2 separate regions of the Homo sapiens genome follow, and region 2 is linked to region 1. A link means that fine-mapping ties the variant in region 1 to the expression of a gene that starts in the linked region. Tissue or cell type: whole blood. Region 1 holds a variant in brackets; the other region holds the start of a gene. All regions are shown on one strand. Distances are from middle to middle.

What was found. PIP is the estimated chance that this variant, and not a neighbour inherited with it, causes the effect.
Region 2: LIG3 starts here. The variant in region 1 is fine-mapped to the expression of LIG3 in whole blood (INTERVAL, PIP above 0.99).

Annotation. Positions count from the first base shown.
Region 1 is chr17:34,999,528-35,010,480 of GRCh38, reverse strand. It overlaps LIG3 (DNA ligase 3), which reads right to left. Exons shown (of 20, transcript NM_013975.4): 16 at 10,625-10,699; 17 at 9,078-9,224; 18 at 8,377-8,572; 19 at 7,692-7,813; 20 at 738-6,208. The coding sequence ends at 5,975. It overlaps RFFL (ring finger and FYVE like domain containing E3 ubiquitin protein ligase), which reads left to right. Exons shown (of 7, transcript NM_001017368.2): 7 at 1-4,491. It overlaps RAD51L3-RFFL (RAD51L3-RFFL readthrough), which reads left to right. Exons shown (of 7, transcript NR_037714.1): 7 at 1-1,369. It also overlaps the pseudogene OSTCP7. Among named protein-coding and RNA genes, the nearest start is that of LIG3, 24 kb to the right of the region's middle. The variant C/T (reference allele first, on the strand shown) is at 4,871.
Region 2 is chr17:34,973,998-34,984,950 of GRCh38, reverse strand. LIG3 (DNA ligase 3) reads right to left here and starts at 4,439. Exons shown (of 20, transcript NM_013975.4): 1 at 4,329-4,439; 2 at 1,399-1,949. The coding sequence starts at 1,945. RefSeq lists a silencer at 3,985-4,414.

The DNA of each region.
Region 1 (10,953 bases):
CACCCAGCAGGAGAAACCATTTTCTAGGCTCTTTAGGAAGGACCATGCAATGAGTAGGTGATGTATTTGAGCCCTCACAGTCTTTACACCCCTAGAGGAGCTGGAGGACTTAAGAGTTTGCTGCAGAAGCGTGGCCAAGCACAAAACACATGATCAGGAAAGCAGAGTGTTTTCCCATTACCAATGGATGAACTATGCAAACCCTAAACGCCTTGGCAGACACCTCCCACCCCTTACCCCTCCCATGCAGCTGAAAAATCTGAGACTAGAACCAATCATGACTCTGGATGGCAGAGGGAAACCTCTAAAGGGACTTATTACATTGGTACAGACATATTTATGCTTTCTTCCATCACCAACCACTAAACCCCTTTGGAGGAATGAAATAACTGCATAAACTAGTCAACTGAACACTGGGCCACTTACCTCAATGTTATACAAAGTCCTGGATGATTTGATTCTGAACCACAGCCTTTGCAGGAGTTGGGGGAATCAGATTTGCTCATGAAGACATCCCTTTCCACTTTTGTCATGGGCAGTAAATACTATAGTTTACAATGCCTACCAATTAGCAAAGGATCATTCATTCAGCTACTCAGTTCCTCTGTAAAACAGGTCTATGTATGTGCAATTCAGCTAAGATCTAGCAGTAACTTAAGGGCAGAAGCTGGCTCTCTACTTACAACCTGCTTTCTCTGCTGAAGCCTTACCTCCTCTTCAGTTTCCCTCCTAGACACAAATCGAAAATAATATACTGATAGCTGGTTAGTAACCTCAGTAAGAATTAAAACTGAGGTTGTTTACTCATTTTGCCTTTAAATCTTTTATCCCCTTTTGGTGAAGGTTTCCCTTTAGGAAAAAAGGTGTCAAACAACCCTGATTTTTTTTTTTTTTGCATCATTTTTATTACACCAAATTAAAGTTGGGAGTTCCAAGATCCCATTCCAGTTAATATTTAACCAAGGTCTAAAATTTGATTTTTTTTAAATCTTTGAATCCTCCCTTCTGCCCCTCATGGATCCTTGGTTTTAATGATATGGAAACATCTAATTCTTAGAATTATTCCGTAGCTTTTGCTGATTACTCTGAGATTTCAGTTAAGACTTGTTTCAAAAGACAGATAGCTGACTGGTTCATAATACATTGGAATAGTTGGATCCAAACTAATAAGAATAAGCTGTACAGGAACTAGTGCTCAATATACATTGTATAAATTTGTGGAAATCTCTTGGATGTGAATTGTTACTTCAAGTGGCTTTTATTAAGATTTTCTCAGACTTACTTGGAGGTTAAAGCAAACCCAAATGTGTATTATTTTGTTACAGAGCTCTGCTTTATAATTTTGTAATAAAGTTTCAATACAGACACCTGTCCTGTCTGGTGCGAGGATGTTAGAGGTTGATAGGACTGACAAAAGAGCCTGACAGTGGTTCATGCTATAATTTCCACACTTTAGGAGGCCAAGGTGGGAAGACTGCTTGAGCTCAGGAGTTTGAGACCAACCTGGGCAATGTAGTGAGACCTTGTCTCTACTTAAAAAAACAAACAAGGGCCGGGTGCGGTGGCTCACGCCTGTAATCCCAGCACTTTGGGAGGCTGAGGCGGGCAGATCACGAGGTCAGGAGATCGAGACCACCCTGGCTAACACGGTGAAACCCCGTCTCTACTAAAAATACAAAAAATTAGCCAGGCGTGGTGGCGGGTGCCTGTAGTCCCAGCTACTCGGGAGGCTGAGGCAGGAGAATGGTGTGAACCCGGGAGGCGGAGCTTGCAGTGAGCCAAGATTGCGCCACTGCAGTCCGGCCTGGGCGAAAGAGCGAGACTCTGTCTCAAAAAACAAAACAAAAAAAAACACAAACAAAAAACCCAAAAAAACCAAAAAATTAGCCGTGCATGGTGGTGCATGTGGGTAGTCCCAACTACTTGGAAGGCTGAGGTGGGAGGATCACTTGAGCCAGGAGATTGAAGCTGCAGTGAGCTCTGATCGCCACCGCACTCCAGCCAGGGTGACAGAGTGAGACCCTGTATTAAAAAAAAAAAAAAATTGACAACTGATAAACCACAAGCTAATCCTGGGATGTGCACATGGCCTGGGATTAGCCTGTGGTTGGGCCAAGTGACCTTGGTCAAGATGCTCAGTGTTGTTGTAACTAACTAACTTGCTCAAGACCACAAATGTAATATATGGAAGAGGCCATGGAACAACCTAGAAGAGAATGAGAGCTGGGTAGGTAAAGGATGAATCCCAAGACCAATTGGGTTGAAGCACCAAGTGAGTTCAGATATTTACACTGATCTAGAAGAGATGGGCCTTAAAGAACTGAAATCTGAGGACAGTTAGTATGCCCAGTTAGGTCTTCAGGTTACCCTGGGAGATACATGGTACCTTTTGGATACAGCTGTAGTACAGCTGGACTATGGCTCAGAAAAGGTTGGCCCAGGCTGGGCGCCATGGCTCACGCCTGTAATCCCAGCACTTTGGGAGGCTGAGGTGCGTGGATGACTCGAGGCCAGGAGTTTGAGACCAGTCTGGACAACATGGCGAAACGTGGTCTCTACTAAAAATACAAAAACTTAGCTGCGAGTGATGGTGTGTGCCTGTTTGTTAAGTCTTAGCCACTTGGGAGGCTGAGGCATGAGAATTGCTTGTGAACCCGGGAAGCAGAGGTTGCAGTGAGCTGAGATTGCACCACTGCACTCCAGCCTGAATGACAGAGCAAGAGTCTGTTTAAAAAAAAAAAAAAGGTTGGCCCAGCCTCGTGACAGACTGCTGTGTGTGCGCAGGCTTGTACAAACCTCCCTGACCAGGCGCCCAAGGAGCAGGGAAAAGACTACTGAGAATGCAGCCCCTGGGAGAACAAGATTATGTGTCCATCTGCTGTGACTGAGAAGAGAAAGGAATCTTGCCAAAAGGGCATAAAGGATCGAGGATGAGCCACAACACTTTGCTCACATTGCCCTAGGGAGCTGACCTGTTCAGCACCCAGTGATGACCTCTGCTTGATGCCAGCCAGCAGCATGTAGAGGTTCAGAAGAGGGAGGCCTCCAGCATTCTGCTGGAGAGATTTATGATGATGATGTTGAGGGCTGCATTGAAATACATGAAAGAAATACATGAAAGGATACAAAATAGTATATACAGTCAGATCTCAGCAGCAAAGACTGGAAGAAAATACATAAAAAACCACTGACATTGAAATGGCAATAACACACACTAAGGCAGAGAAGGGACAAGATGATCACCTGCAGCCAGCAGAGGCCCTTTCCTGTGAGTGTGCACTCTGGGTGTAAGCAACCAATAAGGGCAAGTGGGGCTGGGTCCAGGTTGGAGAGGACAGTGCCTTTGGCAGGATCCTGAGGAGACAGCCTTGTTCTGCTGCCCTGTCCGGTTGTTTGTTTGGCCTGAGGCTGAAGAGAGAAATGGAAATCTATGTAGGTCAGTACTCAAAGGAGGAGCAGCTTTTTGTCTCCATAGAGGATGGAATAAAAAGTATCTTATTCCTAATACTGAAGCAAGGCTGAATGGTGCCTATTCAAAAACACCAAATGTCCTGGGCTAGAGTCAGGAAAGTAAACCCCTCCCCCGTGCTGTCCCTACTCCCCCAACATACACATTTTAAACAGTAGGTGGAAGCCAAAGTCAATCAGATCAAAGTTGGGGGGGGGCGGTGGGGTGGCCAGGGGGCGCAGTGGTCCTTGATCTTATAGGTCCAGAGCCTGTTAATTTGTTCATAAGGTGAGAACTGACCCTCAAGAGCTGGAAGGATTGGGACATGGCAGCCAGTTTACAACCATATGGTGTCCTGATGAGCCTGCACTCAGAGTGGAGTGTTGGCTGGAACATGCACACCTGCAACTGAGGGTTCTAAAGTCATAGGTTAGGCCCTTCTCCCGGGTAGGGTCTGGACATGCACACCAGGAGTGACGTTCCCAACTCTAGATAACTATGTGCTAGGCTCTGGGCTAAGTGCTTTACATAATGTTGCTCAGGACAACAGGACAACCCTATGATTTAGGTGCACCCATTCTACTTGGAGGGATTGAGGCTTAGATGTTAACGTAACTTGCCTAAGGTTAGAGCCATTAAGTTTCAGGAGTCTGATCTGAACTCCGTCTACACCTGCACTGTCCAGTGTGGTAGTCACTAGTGACATGTGACCATTTGAAGTTGAATTAAAATAAGAACTTCAGTTCCTTAGTTGTGCCAGCTTCATTTCAATTGCTCAGCAGCTGTCTGTGGCTAGTTTGGTTGGATACTGCAGATTTATGGATATTTCCACTGCTGCAAAAAGTTCTATTGAATAGCACTTGTCTACACTAAATTGTCTCTCTTCCTTTTGTTCTTCAAATAAATCAGCCTCAGGTAGCACAGGAGCTGTTCTTTGTAAGCAGGTTGTATGGATCTGTTCTCAGGTGTGGATTTTTATTTTTTTCCCTGCAGATATGGAGTATATTTTCTTTAAGAAATTAAAAACTAAGAAGAAAATGCCACTCAACATTGTTGGTATTATCAATAGGTCAGCAGGAAAAAAAAAAATACTGTGATAAACTTGTCTCTCTGATACCAAGAAGAAATTCTAGTCCGAGCTTCAATATGCTTCCTGTTTTTTTCGCTAGGTATTTCTTTTACTGCTGCTCTTCATTCTTTCCCACATTTCATATTGGAGGATTGGTACAGCCTTTAGAACTTCATTGACAGGAGCAAATCCAGTATCCACTGATTTCTTCTTAAAGGCGCTCTAACCCATCAGATAGCCCGGCAGTTTCATTCACATGAATACTCCAGCCATGAAAAAACTCAGTAGGACACAGACGAATCCAATGAATAGAAGAAAAAAAATCGATTGAGTTTTGGGATATTTGGTGCATT[C/T]GACTGGTCCAGCATTATGAAACCTAAACCTCCCATTGTAAACAGGAAGCTGGATGCAAATCCTTCCATAATATACTGTCCATTTACTTTGTAGGCCAAGAAAGCTACTGGCCTCTGATGCCCACGTTCATCAGCCAATACTTGGGGGTTCAACAATATCATATAATTATTCCTCCAGTCATGAGGAAGTAAGACACCACCACCAGAGCATACACAGTCATGGCTGATGGCATGTGCAGCCAGGGTGGCTTCTTCAACTTCAGGTTGGAACACTCGAGCACTAAGAATGGGATATGGTACAAAGTCTCCATGTTGGTGGCAACAAGGGCTGTTCTTGGCCTCAAGCCCCATGTGGATTTTTATTCTTAAAGAACAGTCTTGTTTCCAGGTTTTGGGGATGCAGATCTTCCTGGAGCCCTCTATCCCTCCAGAGGAGTGGCCCAAATAACCTCCCCTTTCTTCATAAAGGCCCCATTTTCCTACCTGACCCTAGTCCCCTCCCTTCAAACTGGGGATCCTCACCATGTAATAGGAGAACACAGAGAAGAAAGTAAAAAAATTCATTTTGTTTTCTTTCACATGAGGTTTGTTCCTGGCAAAGCGTGTCAGGCTGAATACAAGTTCCGCTAAACAGAAGCATTTCCGAGGGCAGTCCTTTAAATACAACTTTAAAATGAGCCTGGAAGTACAAAGGAACAGGCAAGGATGGGAGAGAAGGCTTTGTGGACAGAGCTGCCATAGCCCAGCCTTTACTCCTTAATCTCTAGGGAAATTATTGGGGGTGTAGGTGGGGAAAGGACAAAGATAACTGCAAGATATTTTATTTATAAAAAGGGTAACTAAGCTGCTTTTCAAAGAAAACAAAAAGATGGCAAACCCAGCACCCAGCTCTGAAAGATCTATTTAAACCAGCAAGACAAACTGACTTCAGCTGTGGCACCCACAGCAACTAATTCCTGGTCCAGAAGAGACAGTGGAGAACTGGTGGGTTTGGGAGAAGCAAGCCCATTCCCCCTATACTGTGTCTATCTGCCTCCAGCCTGAGTCCAGTCCAGTAGTATGGTAAAGGAGAGTATGGCCTGAGGGAGAGGGAAGACAGCAAACCTAGCAGGGAGCTACCAGTCTCCGTTTCCGGATACATGCCCAAATCCACTCTGGGGAGACCTGCTGGGCCGCAGGGTTCTTGTCCCTGCTACCCAGCACGTGCGTGGCTGAAGTCATATCAAATTCCTGTACCAGGTCCCCGTCGAATGCCACAAAGTAGCGTCTGAGACGGCTGAAGTCTGGTGTGGAGGGTGGCAAGTAAAGCCGCACCCCAGTGAAGATGTCCAGCAATACCTGCAAATGCAGAGGGGTCAGGGTGGGGTCAGACCTACACTGGGTACAGATGGGTCTTCACCCAAATGAGCACGGGACAGAATGAGGGAGCCTAGAGTTAGGACACAAGCAGAGAAGTTTACTGGAATACCATGCATCAATACCCCCACCCCTCCAGTCACTCCAAATTATACAGGACTGACACGCCCCTCCATCCCTGCCTAGGGGAAAAGGAGAGTGGACAGGCCTCGACATCTGGGACCTGGAGATGGGAAGAGTACATGTGTATAAGAGCCACCCAGTCATGGTGGGCAGGCGGAGCTGGCTCTGACTCAGTGCCCCCAGACTCAGTGATGTCCCCTGAGACCAAGCAGTCTACTCTGTACAACCTGCTAGACTGAGGGGTCAGGAGTCCTGCTTACTACTCTCAATGGGTTCAAGGACTTCAGGCTGGGAAGAGAGAGGGGAAAGGTTTCTACAGGTCTGTTGGGGACCGAGTTCAGGCCTTGTGCTGTGAGACTTCTATGCTTACTCCTGGATGGCGGTGGGGAGCGTGGGGGCGCAATGACATGGGTGTCAATCATATGTTTACTTCTCTATCTGTCCTTTGAGGCATCAGCTCCCCCAGAGTTGAGCCAGTACTAAACCTAGTTCTTGGCATCAGAAAGTGCTCAAAAGAGGCCGGGTATGGTGGCTCAGGCCTGTAATCCCAGCACTTTGGGAGACCAAGGCAGGCGGATCACTTGAGGTCAGGACTTTGGGACCAGCCTGACCAACATGGTGAAATCCCGTCTCTACTAAAAATACAAAAATTAGCCGGGCATGGTGGCACATGCCTATACTCCCAGCTACTCGGGAGGCTGAAGCCGGAGAATCGCTTGAACCTGGGAGGCGGAGGTTGCAGTGAGCGGAGGTTGCAGTGCGCTGTGATTGCACCACTTCACTCCAGCCTAGGCAACAGAGCGAGACTTATCTCAAAAAAAAAAAGAATTGCTCAGGAGATGTTGCCAAACCCAAGACTGACAAGAAAATGTAACAGGGAAAAGGCTCCTCAGGTGGGAGGAGAGTCACCAAGCCAGTGCCCTCTCCCCGACTCGCTGCTTGCTGGACCTGCTTCCACCCTGACCACAAACTCAATGCTGCATTCCCACACCCAGACTGGTCTTTTCCCTTTAATGTAAATTTTGACTTGGGGCCAGCAGCTGAGTGAGTCCCTGCAGTCTCTCCTGGCTAGGCCGGGCTGTTCTATCTCCTGCCTGCTGGCACAGTTCTTCCTCTCTGCTCACTGGCTGGCCGCCTCTGCAAGGCAACAAGAGGACATAGGGTGAGCAGCAGCATTGCTGACCCTGCCCACGACAGAGGAGTGGCTGCAGGCAGGGAAGAGGTTTAGCCGATGTTCCCCAAACACCTTTGCTCATCCTCTTTCAAACTTCTTGTACAGAAGGTTGGGAACACAACCTGGGCTAAACTGGCCCACGTGGTGTGTTGCTGTTTTTACCCTCACCTTTGTTTGGCACAGCGTCTCATCAGCAGCTTTCCGCTTCTCCCCTACTTTCACTGGAGAAGACTTTGTGGCCAGCTTCTCCCCCACCTTCATAGCGGAAGGCTTTGCAGTCTGCATGTTGCCTGCAGGACAGAGAGGAAGCTGGGTGTGGTGGTGCACACCTATAGTCCCAGCTACTCGGGAGGATCAATTCAACTCAGGAGTTCGAGGCTGCAGTGAGCTATGGTCGTGCCACTGCACTCCAGCCTGGATGACAGAGTGAGACCCTGTCTCTAAAAAACATATGATACAAAAGAACTAAGAGGGTAGGGATTGCTGATAATGCTCCCTGAAGTCAGGGGCAGTAATGGGAAGGACCAGGGGCTTTCTCTGCTATGAGCATAGGTGAGAGGGGAGTGAAGAGTTATCAGCTAAGCCCTTTACTCAAAGGTAGCTTATTCCCTGGTCAGACTGGCTGTCCCCAGGGTACTGCTCCATTCAGGTTTGCTGAGCAGATACAGGGTGCCCAGCAGAAGGGTCTCTGGCCCATGGCTGGACACACACCAGGAATGTAGTCTGTGTCCACTGCAGTGGACACAGATAATCATGAGATCTCAGGGCTGGAATGTGAGACTGGGTCCCTGCCCTTGGATCTCTGCCCCTCACACCGCCCTCTTCACCATACCAGCCCCCTCCCTATCCTTACCATCTTTGCTGTTGGAGTTACTCAGCTTCCCTTCTGCTTTCTTGGTACTGGCTGAGGGCTTGCTGGGGGCCTTGCGGGACACAGCAGACCCTGAGGGACCCTTATTCTCTTCACTGCTACCCCCTGTAGTGGAGCTCCCCTCATCTCCAGCCACTACAGTGAAGTCTGCCTTCTCCTTGGACAACTGGTACAGTTCCTGAGGCGGGGAGGGACAATGTCAGAGGGTTTCATTGCCTTCCCAGTCTGGCCTCAGAGGTGGTGTGTGTGGTGTATTTTAGGCGCATATGGGAACAAAGATGTGAGAAAGATAAAGAGCAAGGAAAAGGAGTTGGCTCCCTTGGCACCATTCCAAAGTATGGCCCTATAGCCTGAGTAATCAGGGTACAAATCATTGTTCTCTGTACAGCAAAGCAGGCTTTGCTGGGGCAACAGGAGCAAACTCTTATTCCCCAGACTAAAGGCTGCTCAGTGGGGCCTTGCAAATGCAAGGTTCTCTACTCAGAGATGGAGGGAGAAGGAGGTCTAGTGCTGTGCCCCTGGCCCAGCAGCAGTTTGTCTCCCTCTCTAATTGCCCTCCTTGCTCTGCCTCAGGAGAATGGGGGAAAGGAGAAGACAGAGGACATGTGAATGGTCTAGATGCCCAAGGCTCCAAGGCCTGGACAGTGGGGTGGAGAATACATATACAGCCTAAGAGCTGCTACCTTGAGTTGGGGAAGGTTAGTGGCAGATTTCCAGTCCTTATCATCTCGGATTCGGGTGCAGCGAGGGAATCGGATGGAGATCCCGTCAGCTGTATGAGCCTCCGATTTGGAGAATTCAGCCCCTGTGATCTCCCACACGGCAGCTTTCTGTCAGGAGTAAGCCAGCAGGTCATCACTGGTTAAGAAGATAGTATCAGTGGCCGGGCGTGGTGGCTCAAGCCTGTAATCCCAGCACTTAGGAAGGCTGAGGTGGGCAGATTACTTGAGGTCAGGAGTTTGAGACCAGCCTGGCCAACATGACGCAACCCCGTCTCTACAAAAAATAACAAAAATTAGCCAGGCACGGTGGTGCACGCCTGTAGTCCCAGCTACTCAGAAGGCTGAGGTATGAGAATCGCTTGAACCCAGGAGGCAGAGGTTGCAGTGAGCTGAGATCATGCCACTGCTCTCCAGAACGAGACTGTCTCAAAAAAAGGGAGAAGCAAGTATTGGCCAGGCGCGGTGGCTTGCATCTGTAATCCCAGCACTTTGGGAGGCCAAGGCAGGTGGATCACCTGAGGTCAGGAGTTTGAGACCAGCCTGGCCAACATGGTAAAACCCTATCTCTACTAAAAATGCAAAAATTAGCTGGGGGTGGTGGCACCCCTGTAATCCCAGCTACTTGGGAGACTGAGGTGAGAGAACTGCTTGAACCCAGGAGGCGGAGGCTGCAGTGAGATGAGATCATGCCACTGCACTCCAGCCTGGACAACAGAGTGAGACCCTGTCTCAAAAAAAAAAAAAAAAAAAAAAAAAGTATCTCCCAACCAGCTAGAAGCAATACAGAACAATTAAAACCAAAAAGGCGGCTGGGTGCAGTGGCTCACGCCTGTAATCCCAGCACCCTGGGAGACTGAGGCGGGCAGGTCACCTGAGGTCAAGAGTTCAAGACCAGCCTGACCAACATGGAGAAACCACATCTCTACTAAAAATACAAAATTAGCTGGCCACGGTGGCACATGCCTGTAATCCCAGCTACCTGGGAGGCTGAAGCAGGAGAATCACTTGAACCCGGGAGGCGGAGGTTGTGGTGAGCTGAGATCCCGCTATTGCACTCCAGCCTGGGCAACAAGAGTGAAACTCCGTCTCAAAAACAAAACAAAACAAAAACCAAAAAAGCTTTGGCTAACAGCTGGGAAACTTGGGTCCTAGTTCTGCTGCTGCTGTTGCTGAATAACCTTAGGGAAGTCCTGTTTGTTCTCTAGATCTCTTTCTTGGTCGGTACAAGAAGGGATTGGGCCAGATTACTTCTAGAACACACCCTTTGTGCTGAGGGGATAGGTACTCTCTTCTTCTCTCTCTTTTTTTAAAGCAATTGTATTGCAGAAAGAATTCTATTCAAAATTCCTCAGAGTTGTCTGGTTGTCCCTGTGCCTATCACTCAGCTGGAAATCCAGACCCCTATCCCTGGGTGGACTTTCAGCGAGGTGAGATGGATTCTCTATGGCACTAGAGAACCTGCAAGCTAATTCTATGAGCTGGAGGCCCCCAAGCCACTGGGTTGATACCTTTGGGTCTGGGACGATGAAGTCAGGATAGTAGATCTTGTTGACCTTCAACCAGCTGGGTATTTTGCTGGGGTCCTAGAGGAGAAAAGATGCTACTTTGGGCTGTTCCCAACCTGGAACAAGGCTTAAATCCCTTCTCTTGGTAATGAGATTATAAGAAGCCACTTAAACAGCTGATGTTTGAGCCATGTGATCCTCCCAGCCCAGAGTGGGTATGACCTAGAGGCATGCAAGCCATTTTCCACAAGAAGGCATTCAGAGATTATAAGGCCTAATCCTGCTCCCCTGAGCAAGCTGCAACCCTTCTTTCTGGGGAGACAGAAATACCT
Region 2 (10,953 bases), 26 kb after region 1:
CAAAAATTAGCTGGGTGTGGTGTCAAGTGCCTGTAGTCCCAGCTACTTGGGAGGCTGAGACAGGACAATTGCTTGAACCTGGAAGGCAGAGGTTGCAGTGAGCTAAGACAGTGCCACTGCACTCCAGCCTGGGTCACAGAGTGAGACTCTGTCTCAAAAAAAAAAAAAAGAAGAAACAGATACCCCATGACAATGTGTTCACATAGTATCCGGGTTTTACTCTTTAATACCATTTCCCACTAACAGGATAGTGCCACTACACTCCAGCCTGGGTCAGAGTGAGACTCTCAAAAAAAAAAAAAAGAAGAAACAGATACCCCATGACAATGTGGACACATAGTATCCAGGTTTTACTCTTTAACAGGGGCATTTCCCACTAACAGGAATCCCCAGAGAAATTACCAATTTCAGGGCTGGGGAAGGATACATACGGGATAAGACTAAAAGCATCTTGCTATGCTCAAGAGTAAAGAAGTACATTAAAAAAAGTTAATGAAGGTATACAGGACACAGAGGACAGTGTAAAGGGGTTCCTAATTGGCCAAATATGGGACAATTAAGTATCAAATTAGTTAAGTACAGTAATGAATTATATGCTACAAGAAAAAAAGTAAAAGAGGATAGTAATCAGTACTCTATTCTTCCAAAATATCAATGTCATAAAAGAGAGACTATGGAAATATTTCAGATTAAAGGAGGCCAAAGAAACATGACAACTAAATGCAACACCTGATATGATCCTAGACTGGGATCCTATACTGCAGGAAAAGGCTACTGAAGGTATGACTCAATCCATTGACAAAATAGTATACAGATGGTAGATTTAAGTATTACATCAAGGACAAATTTTCTGAAGATGATAGCTATATTATAGTCGCATAAGGGTCATATATCCTATTCTTAAGGTATATACACTGAAGAATTTTAAAGGGCCATGATGTATGCAACTTATTCTCAAATGGTTTAAAGTGAGTGCACGCACACGTGTGTATGTATGTAGAGAGAGACAGCACATGAACAAATATGATAAAGCAAATAGAGTAAAATGTTAATAGGTAAATATGGGTAAAAGGAATATGAATGTTCTTTGTACTATTTTTAATCTTCCAACACTTCAGTGAGTTTAAAATTATTTCCAAATAAAACGTTAAAGGCTGGGCATGGTGGCATGCGCCTGTAATCCCAACTACTTGGGAGGCTGAGTCAGGATGACCTGAGTCCAGCAGTGCAAAGCTGCAGTGAGCTACGAATGCAACATTAAACACTGGCCTAGGCAACAGAGTGAGACCCCATCTCTAAAAGAGCAAAGTTAAAAAAAAGAGAAAGAAAGCAGTTGAACTCCTTATCCCTTTTTCTCTCAGCACCAGTAAGATGAGAAAGCAGTGTTCTCTACCTTACCTGCAATGTGCTGGGTTATCTGTTCCTTCTCATTATCTTCCAGCTCTTCCCAGCCTTCCAGCTCTGTGAGGTCCTCGATTTTTTTTGTGGTGGCCCGGGCCCGCTCTAGTTTCTCAAACATGCATTTAATGTGGTACCACTCTTTCATATCACCCCCAGACTCTGAGAAGGGATTGGGCACCACTTTGCCAATTCGGCATACGCCCTTCACAATCTTTTCCTTGCATTTTTTGCAGCCAGCTGTGCCACGCTTGGCATAGTCCACACAGAACCGTTGCTCAGCCATCTCACAGGGGCCACTGCAGAGTCCCACATGCAACCCTGGCAAGAAAACAAGGTAGGTGGCACGTGATCTTAGATGGCTTCCCTGGAATGATAGAACAGGCTTTCTTCTCAGGAAGAGGGGATGTCCATGAAGCAGATCTGTTTCTGACCACTGGCTGAATTGTCTTACATCACGCCAGTGATGTTTTCGGAATAGGCACAGTTCTTTTCGGCTGAGTGCACGGAGGGTTTGTGGAAAGAAGATCTTGAAAGCCAAAGACATATAGCTGTACGAAAGAGTAGGAGGCCAAAAAAAAAAAAAAAAGATATAAACAAGGAGATAGGCTTCCAATTTTCCAAAGGCCAGCGTCTTATATAGTCCATGATGACTAATCAAACACTTTCCAAAGTATTACATTCATAGTCTACTCTACAGCATGAAAGAGTTCTGATACAGGAAAAGCCAGCTCGCAGCAGGATGTTCAATTATCTAATGCACACATGTACATCTAGTACATCACAATGAAGAAAATCCAAATAACATAAAAGCTCTTTTTAGGCCATCAGCAACATATGATACTCATAATGGATGATGACCTTTAAGTATTACAAGATCCTGAACTTTCTTTTTTTTTTTTTTTGAGGCGGAGTTTCACTTTAATTGCCCAGGCTGGAGTACATTGGCGCGATCTTGGCTCACCGCAACCTCCTCCTCTCGGGTTCAAGCGATTCTCCTGCCTCAGCCTCCCTAGTAGCTGGGATTACAGGCATGCGCCACCACGCCCGGCTAACTTTTTTGTATTTTTAATGGAGACGGGGTTTCTTCTTGTTGGTCAGGCTAGTCTCCAACTCCCGACCTCAGGTGATTCGCCCGCCTCGGCCTCCCAAAGTGCTGGGATTACAGACATGAGCCACCGTGCCTGGCCCTGAAGTTTCGTTTTAATCACCAGTAAAAATTACATTATGTTCATGAAGTTTTTATTGTGAAGTTTAACACATATGCCATCCTCAGAAATCAAGCCACTATATAGATTTGGAATTGAGTTAGAATCCCTATATTGAGAGACAACTAAGCAGAGCCTGGAATCAGACTGCCTGAGTTCAAATCCTAACTCAGCCACTTACCAGCTGTATAACCTTGATGGGTTTCTTACCTCTGTTCCTGAGCTTCCTTATCTGTAAAATGTGGCTAATTATGGGGCCTAACTTAAAGAGCTGTTCTAAGAGTAAAACCCTTAAAACAGTTGGGCACACAGCAAGAGCTCTCATTAACGTCAGCTCCTATTATGATCGGTGACGTCGTTATCTTTCAAGAAGAGGCTTCCGATGTGCAATTAACCTGTTTATCATTCAGCAACTTGAATCAGAGAATGCTGAAGTCACTGGGCAGCAAGACTCACAGGAACTCATAAATCAATCCAAATGGAAAAAGATTATATCAGCATCTTCTTATATTCATGTTTTCTAAAGCATTTTATAGTCCTAGTTTTAAGTATACTGGAATTATGTTCAGTCTGCACACGCTGTGAAGCAAAATTGCTGTCACGTTATAATAAAAAGCAGGCTTTGCTTACTGTAGTGCAACATGATGTGAAGGAAAGCTGGTGGACCTGGAATAAGGGATGGGAGTGCAAGTCTGACTGTACAGTTTACTGACTGTTACCTCGGAGAAAACTCTTAATTTATCTGCATCTGTTTTCTTATTTCTAAAGCAGGGTAAATAATACCTACCTCACAGGGTAGTTGGGAAAATTACAAGGAATCCATGAATGCGCTGGTTGTGGGGGAGGGAGGCTGTTCTGAGCTCTCTAAAAATGTATACAAAATGTACATTCGATAAAAATGCACGGTTTTTTGGAGGAGGTCTATCACTTTCGTGATATTCACAAAGGGCTATATAACTCCCAAAGTTTAAGAACCACAGAGGTGAGGTAAGTGGAAGTACGGCAGACCCATAAAAGGAGGTCAGAACAAGTGAGTTTCAACACTTTTCCTAGAAGATCAATTTACAGAGCAACCTCTAGGGCCCCAATAATGAAAGGAGTGGACTTGAGGGAGGCTCGGGAGGCGCTGGGCCACGAGGAGGCACAATGCAGCTTTGAGGAAACCCGTCTGTCCCTCGTTCCGCACCCTCACAACTGCCGCAGCCCAGGGGCCCGAGAAGGAAATCGCTGAGGCCTGGCCGCCGCCGCTTTTCTCGAAGGGCTTCCCGCGCCGCTGTCGGAGAGTGGCGGGGACAGTGGGGTCGGCGGCGTAGGCCGCGACCCCCGGCGAGGCAGAAAGGAGCGCTCCTCCACCGGGTCCGGGACGCAGGCGGGAAGTGATCAAGGCTCCCTGAGTCCCACCCGAGCGCTCCCGGTTCAGCGCAGGAGGACGCACGCCGGGCCAGGGTACGAGAAGGCCCCGTGGGTTCCACAGGGAACACAGCCCGGGCGCCGGCCTCCCCGCCTCACGCGGCCCCGTGGGGGTCCCGGGGAGCCGCGAGCCTCCCCCTGGGCTCCCGGGAGGGCCGCCACGTCACGGAGGGTGTGCCCCGGGGCTCCGCAGGCGGGCGGGGGAGGAGCCGGGGGGCTGGCTCCCCGGCCGCGCCGAGCTCCTCGCCCCGGGCCCGCTGCCTTCCCCACGCCGGGCCCCGCCGCGCCGTGCCGCGCCGCGTAGCCCCTCACCTGCCTCTCCGGCTCCGGCGCTCACCGTAGGCCTCGGAACTTGCTCATTACAGGCCGCGGGCAGCCCACGACGGTTGGAGCGCCTGTCTCTTTAAATCCGGGTCCTAGAGCGGGAGGCAGCGCGCAGGCGCAAGAGCCAAGGCCGCGGCCACGCGACCGGTCCCCGCCCCCGTCTGCCACGTGGGTCGTAGTTGCATTCTGCCTGCCCTGTGATGTTTGGGAGTAGTTTTCAACCTGCAATCGCGGCCCGGGAAGCGGAGGTGGGGGGACGTGGCGGCTCCTCGGAACGCAGCCTGGCCTGAACTTCCGAGGCTCCCCTTGATTTTCTCATACTGTTAGAGAGGATCTGTTTTTAAAGATATTGGTGGAGAAACTATATTGTAATGAGGTCGGGGAAGGCAAAGATCGCGTCAATCTATTTTTTAAATATAATCCCTCTGTTTGTGTCCCGCAGACTCCCTAGTAAATAGTTTGTATTCAGTAGCTTTCATGGAATTGAGACGAGGCACTAAACAGCAGATAGATATAAAATGTAAAGGAGTGATGGAGGAGAAACTCCTTGATTGTATATCATTCAAAGTGTATTATCTCAAATCTGAAGCCAGCTCTTTGAGAGTTGGGATGGCGATTTTTACAAATGTAGCAGCCTGAGGGTAAGTGACCTCTTCAGAGTCTAGGAAGAGCAAACAACTGGGCCTTGTTAGGTAAGCAAAGAACAGGTTCCCGAGAGAATTCTGTGCTGTGTGATGAAGAGTGTCGTCTTTACTCTGTAGAGGACGGAGAGCCATGAAGAGTCTTAGGGAATACTGCTGAAGCTGGGTGGGGAGAGACTGAGGCAAGGGAACAAATCAGAAGGCTCTCATAGTGACCCATGTGGGAGATGATTCAGCTAGTTAGGGTGGAGAGTAAAGTGCGTTTTTGAAGATCATTTAGAATTTAAATGATCTTCTAGATAAAGTGCTCGTTTATGGATAAAATAATAATAATTTGAGTGAGCAGAAACATAATGGTACCATCAACTGAAATAGAAAATAGAGAGGAAGAGGAGGTGTTAGGGTTAGAAAGATGAGTTTTGTATTGGATACATTAAGTTTGTTTGACTAAGTTTAACTGCGATTCTACTGTTTGGAGGGGAGTAAAGCCTGCTTTTAATGCGCAGCAGAATGAACCAGGGCTTTGGTTCAACCAGGCAATTGGAAGGTCGCTGGAGACTCACGTCCTAGCTATGATAATTGAGTGATCTTGAGCACGTCTCTACAACTACATTTGCTACATTTTTTTAAGTTTCCTCAACCGTATCTGTCTTTTTCCAATGCTGTAATCACTAGCCACACGTGACTATTGAGCACTTGAATGTTGCATGGAATTGAGATGTGCTATAAGTGAAGAAAATACACACCAAAAAATTCATACTAAAAAAAGTAAAATATCTCATTAATAATATGTACCACATAATGACATTTAGGCCAACAATGGACCAAATATATGAGGGTGGTCCCATAAGATTATAATGGAGCTGAAAAATCCCTATCATATAGTGACAGCACATTACTCATGTGTTTGTGGAGATGCTGGTGGAAACGAACCTACTCCATTGCCAGTTGTATAAAAGCATAGCACACACTATTATGTACAGTATATAAAACTTTATAATGATAATAAAGGACGATGTTGCTGGTTTATATATTTAGTATACTATACCTTTTATTGTCATTAAATTAAATTAATTAATTTAGTTATTTTTGAGACAGAGTCTCGCTGTGTCGCCCAGGCTGGAGTGCAGTGCCACGATCTTGGCTCACTGCAACCTCTGCCTCCCAGGTTCAAGTGATTCTCCTGCCTCAGCCTCCCAAGTAGCTGGGATTACAGGCCCTTGCCACCACAATGGGCTAATAATTTTTTTTTTTTTTTTTTGCGACAGAGTTTTGTTCTTGTCGCCCAGGCTGGAGTGCAGTGGCAGGATTTTGGCTCACTGCAACCTCTGCCTCCTAGGTTCAAGCAATTCTCCTCCCTCAGCCTCCTGAGTAGCTGGAATTACAGGCACCCGCCACCACGCCTGGCTAATTTTTGTATTTTTAGTAGAGACGGGGTTTCACGATGTTGGCCAGGCTGGTCTCAAACTCTTGACCTCAAGTGATCCGCCTGCCTCGGCCTCCCAAAGTGCTGAGATGACAGGCATGAAACACTATGCCCAGCCTTATTGTTATTTTAGAGTATACTACTACTTATTGAAAAAAAAAAAGCTAACTGTAAAACAGCATCAGGTAGGTCCTTTAGGAGGTATTCCAGAAGAAGGCATTGTTATCAGAGGAGATGACAGCTCCACGTGTGACATTGCCCCTGAAGGCCTTCCAGTAGGACAAGATGTAGAGGTGGAGGATGGTGATATTGATGATCCTGACCCTCTGTAGGCTTACTAGGCTAATGTGTGTGTTTCTGTCTTGTTAACAAAAAAGTTTTAAAAGTAAAAGGAATTTTTTTTAATAGGAAAAAGCTTATAGAATAAGGATATAAAGCAAAAATATTGGCTGGGCACAGTGGCTCACATCTCTAATCCTAGCACTTTGGGAGGCTGAGGCAGAAGGAGTTCAAAACCAGCCTAGGCAACATATTTATAAGAAATAAAAATATTTATTTAAAAAAAGAAAAATATTTTTATACAACTGTGCTGTTTATGTGTGTGGTTTTATTAATTTATTTTTTTGAGATGGAGTTTCGCTCTTGTCACCCAGGCTGGAGTGCAATGGCACAATCTCAGTCCACTGCATCCTCTGCCTCCCAGGTTCAAGTGATCCTCCTGCCTCAGCCTCACAAGTAGCTGGGATGACAGGTGCCCACCACCACGCCTGGATAATTTTTTTATATTGTTAGTAGAGACGGGGTTTCTCCATGTTGGTCAGGCTGGTCTCAAACTCCCAACCTCAGGTGATCCACCCACCTTGGACCATTTTCTTTTATACCTTTGTGTGTGTGTGTGTGTGTGTGTGTGTGTGTGTGTGTGTGTGTGTGTGTGCTGTGCTTTGCCTATGTTTAGAGACACAAATACTTACCATTGTGTTATAGTTTCCTACAGTATTCAGTATAGTACATGCTGTATGGGTTTATAGCCTAGGAGCAATAGCCTATACCATATAGCTTAGGTATATAGTCAGCCATATCATTTAGGTTTTGTAAGTACACTATGATATTCCCATCACAAAATCACTTTACGATGCATTTCTCAGAAGGTATCCTGTTGTTAAACAACTCACGACTATCCTATCTTTATGTTAATTATTTATTGAAATGATTTTTTTGGATATGTTATGTCAAATAAAATATAGTAAAGTTCATCTCACCTGTTTATTTTTACTTTTTTGAAAATGTGGTGACTAGAAAATATAAAACTGCACGTTTGGCTTACACTACATTTCTGTTAGAGTACACTGCCTTAGATTTCAAACCTACATGTAGAGGGTGGCATCTGTGCTATATGCTCAGTGCCTAGAACAGTGCTGGGCACATAGTAGATACTCAACAAATATCTGTGAATAATGAATGAAACTCATGAGTGAATGGAATGAATGAATAAAACTCTGGAAGTGATAAGATCCCTTAGAAGGATGTTTATTATATCATAACAATATTTGATATAAACTTGCAAAGACTTAGGCTGTAAATGATTTTTGCTTGATGAGAGCTCCCTGAACCCCCTGATTCTCTCTGATTCAGGTCCCCTGCTGTGAAATAGAACTAGGTACACAAGAAATGGAACTAGGTACGAAAGCCGGCAGTTGCACTTCTTTAGAAAAGTGGGAACTGGCTGGGTGTGGTGGCTCACGCCTGTAATCCCAGCACTTTGGGAGGCCGAGATGGGCGGATCACAAGGTCAGGAGTTTGAGACCAGTCTGACCAACATGGTGAAAGCCCATCTCTACTAAAAATACAAAAATCAGCCAGGTGGTGGCGTGCACCTGTAATCCTAGCTACTCAGGAGGCTGAGGCAGAAGAATCGCTTGTACCTGGGAGGCAGAGGTTGCAATGAGCCGAGATCGCGCCACTGCACTCCAGCCTGGGAGACAGAGCGAGACTCTGTCTCAAAAAAAAAAAAGAAAAGTGGGAACTACTCTACCAAGGAGAATGAGGCAAAGTGTGGTAGGAAGAGCAGGGCTTTGGATTTGCACAGACAGGTTTGAATTATGTTCCACTACCAGCTGTCTGTAACTTTCATCTATTTTCTTAACTTTCCGGGTCTCAGTTTTCACCGTGAAATGGGGATAGTTTTACATTTAGGTCCCGGATCAATTTTGAGTTTATTTCTGTGAAGGGTGTAAGATCTATCTAGATTCAATTTTTGCCATATGGATCCCTTGTTGATCTAACACCATTTCTGAAAAGACTGTTTTCTCATTTGTATTGCTTTTGGTCATTTGTCAAAGATCATTGACTATATTTATGTGAATCTGTCTGTGGGCTGTGTATTCTGGTCCATTGGTCTATTTGTGTGTTCTTTGACCAGTACCACACTGTCTTGATTCCTGTAGCTTTATAGCAAGTCTCAACTTAGATAATGTCAGTCCTCCAACTTTGTTCTCTTCCTCCAATATTGTGTTGGCTATTCTGAATCTTTTGCTTTTTCACATAAACTTTAGAATCAGTTTCTAAAGCCAATATCCACAAACTAAGTTACTGGAATTTTGATTGGGATTGTATTGAATATACAGATTACATTGGAAAGAACTGACATCTTGACAATATTGAGTATTTGTATCCATGAAGATGGAATATTTATTGATTAGTTTGTCTTTGATTTCTTTTATTAGAGTTTTGTAGTTTTCCTCATACACCTCTTGTACATATTGTATTAGATTTATGCTTAAGTATTTCATTTTTGGGTTGGTGGTGAAATGAGGATAAAAATAACTCTTGGGATTGTAGGTGCCAATTAAATGAGATGACTGATGTCAGCTTGCAAACTGCTTGGCACTTAGAGGCATTTCAATAAATGTACATTCTCCTGCACCACCCAGCCTGGATACATTCATACCACTACAGAGTGTAATCACTCAGTCATTGATTGGTCAGTCAAGTATTTATTGAGTGCCTACTCTGCATCAGGCACAATTCCAGGAGTGTAATACAGTAGCGAAACAAAGCAGACAAAAATCCAGCCCTCATGGAGCAAACTAGTGTGGGAGATCAATAACAAACAGGGAAGTAAAATGTATAAGGTGTAAGAAGTCAGTGGGTGCCATGGAGAAGAAGAAAGCAGAGGAGGGTGGGACATGCGGGGTAGGGGCAGGGTGGCAGTTTTAAATAGAGGTCAGAAAGGCCTCACTGACAAGTAACAACTGAGAAAAGATTTGAAGAAATGAGTCAGCCTCATGCAGATTGAGGGTAGATGGAGCATTAGATAAAGGCTTGGAGGCCAAAAATGTGACTGTCATTTAGGACAATAGCAAGGAGATCCATGTGGCTAGAGCAGCTGGAGTTAAGGTTGAGAAGAGCAAGGAGACAGATCCTGTAGGGTCTTGTAAGACATTGCAAAGACATTGGCTTTTATTCCAGGTGAGAAGGGAAGCTAGTGGATTGTATTGAGCCGAGAAGTCATGTGATCTAACTTAAGCTTTAACAGGATCACTATCACTCTGGTTGTTGTGTAGAGAAGTTGGGAGATGAGTCAGGTAGCTATGTTAATAATCTAGGGGAGAGATGAAGGCAGCTTGGGTGGTAACAGTGATAGTAAGAAATAACTGAGGCTTATAGACCCCTAGGGGAACTGTGGATGGGCTCAGGGGTGTCCTTGAATTTCCTGAAATTTTATATAAACATTTGTGTGCATGGGCATTTTTGGTGAAGAGCTTTTATGGAGTCTCAAAGCAGTTTTATGATCCAAACAAGAACTAAGCTGGTGGTGAATAATCAGGATATCTCATGCTTGTTCCTAGCTATTCAAAGTCCTCAATTAAGTTCTTTCCACAGATGTTGACTGTAAATCCTCTACGGCATCTATCCTGTTTGTGAGCCTCTTAAGAGTTTTGACTGTCTCCTTTAAGTCTGTTCTAACCCTGACTTCCAGTTAAGACTCATCAGAATTGTTACAAAGAAAAAGAGCCATAAGGAAATGGGTAGATTCTGTTCATGTTCTATGCTACTAACTGTGGTAGTTTGGGAGCCACAGGCAAGAATTGGGAAAAGGCTTGACACTGTCCTAGAGATAGTGAGGGGCACTTGTGAGGCTAGTCTGTTCTCAGTGGGTTCCCTTTTTTAATAAGCTGTGGTCTATGAATCACATAAACCCCAGCAGCAAGAGCTGATTTTATGGGTTGGTTTGCTTAATAGTCACACAATTCAAATAAGTTGTAAAAAACGGTGCTGGTATTTGCCAGGATAAATATTTAAAAGGGAATAGCTGTAGAAAGATATAATAATTCAAATCAGCTCATCGTTCTTCATTCTCAATAAAGGCTGCGGAGGTTGGTTCTTAACCAGGGGGGTTTCTTGGCCTCTCCTTTGAATATGTTGTGCTACAGCTGTCAGGTTGAGAAAGGGCAGAGCTGAGAGAAGTCATACTTGCCTTTGGGAGTAGCTGATCCATGACAGAGAGGTTCTGGGACAGGGTTAAGAAGAGGGTTGAGGTCACAGA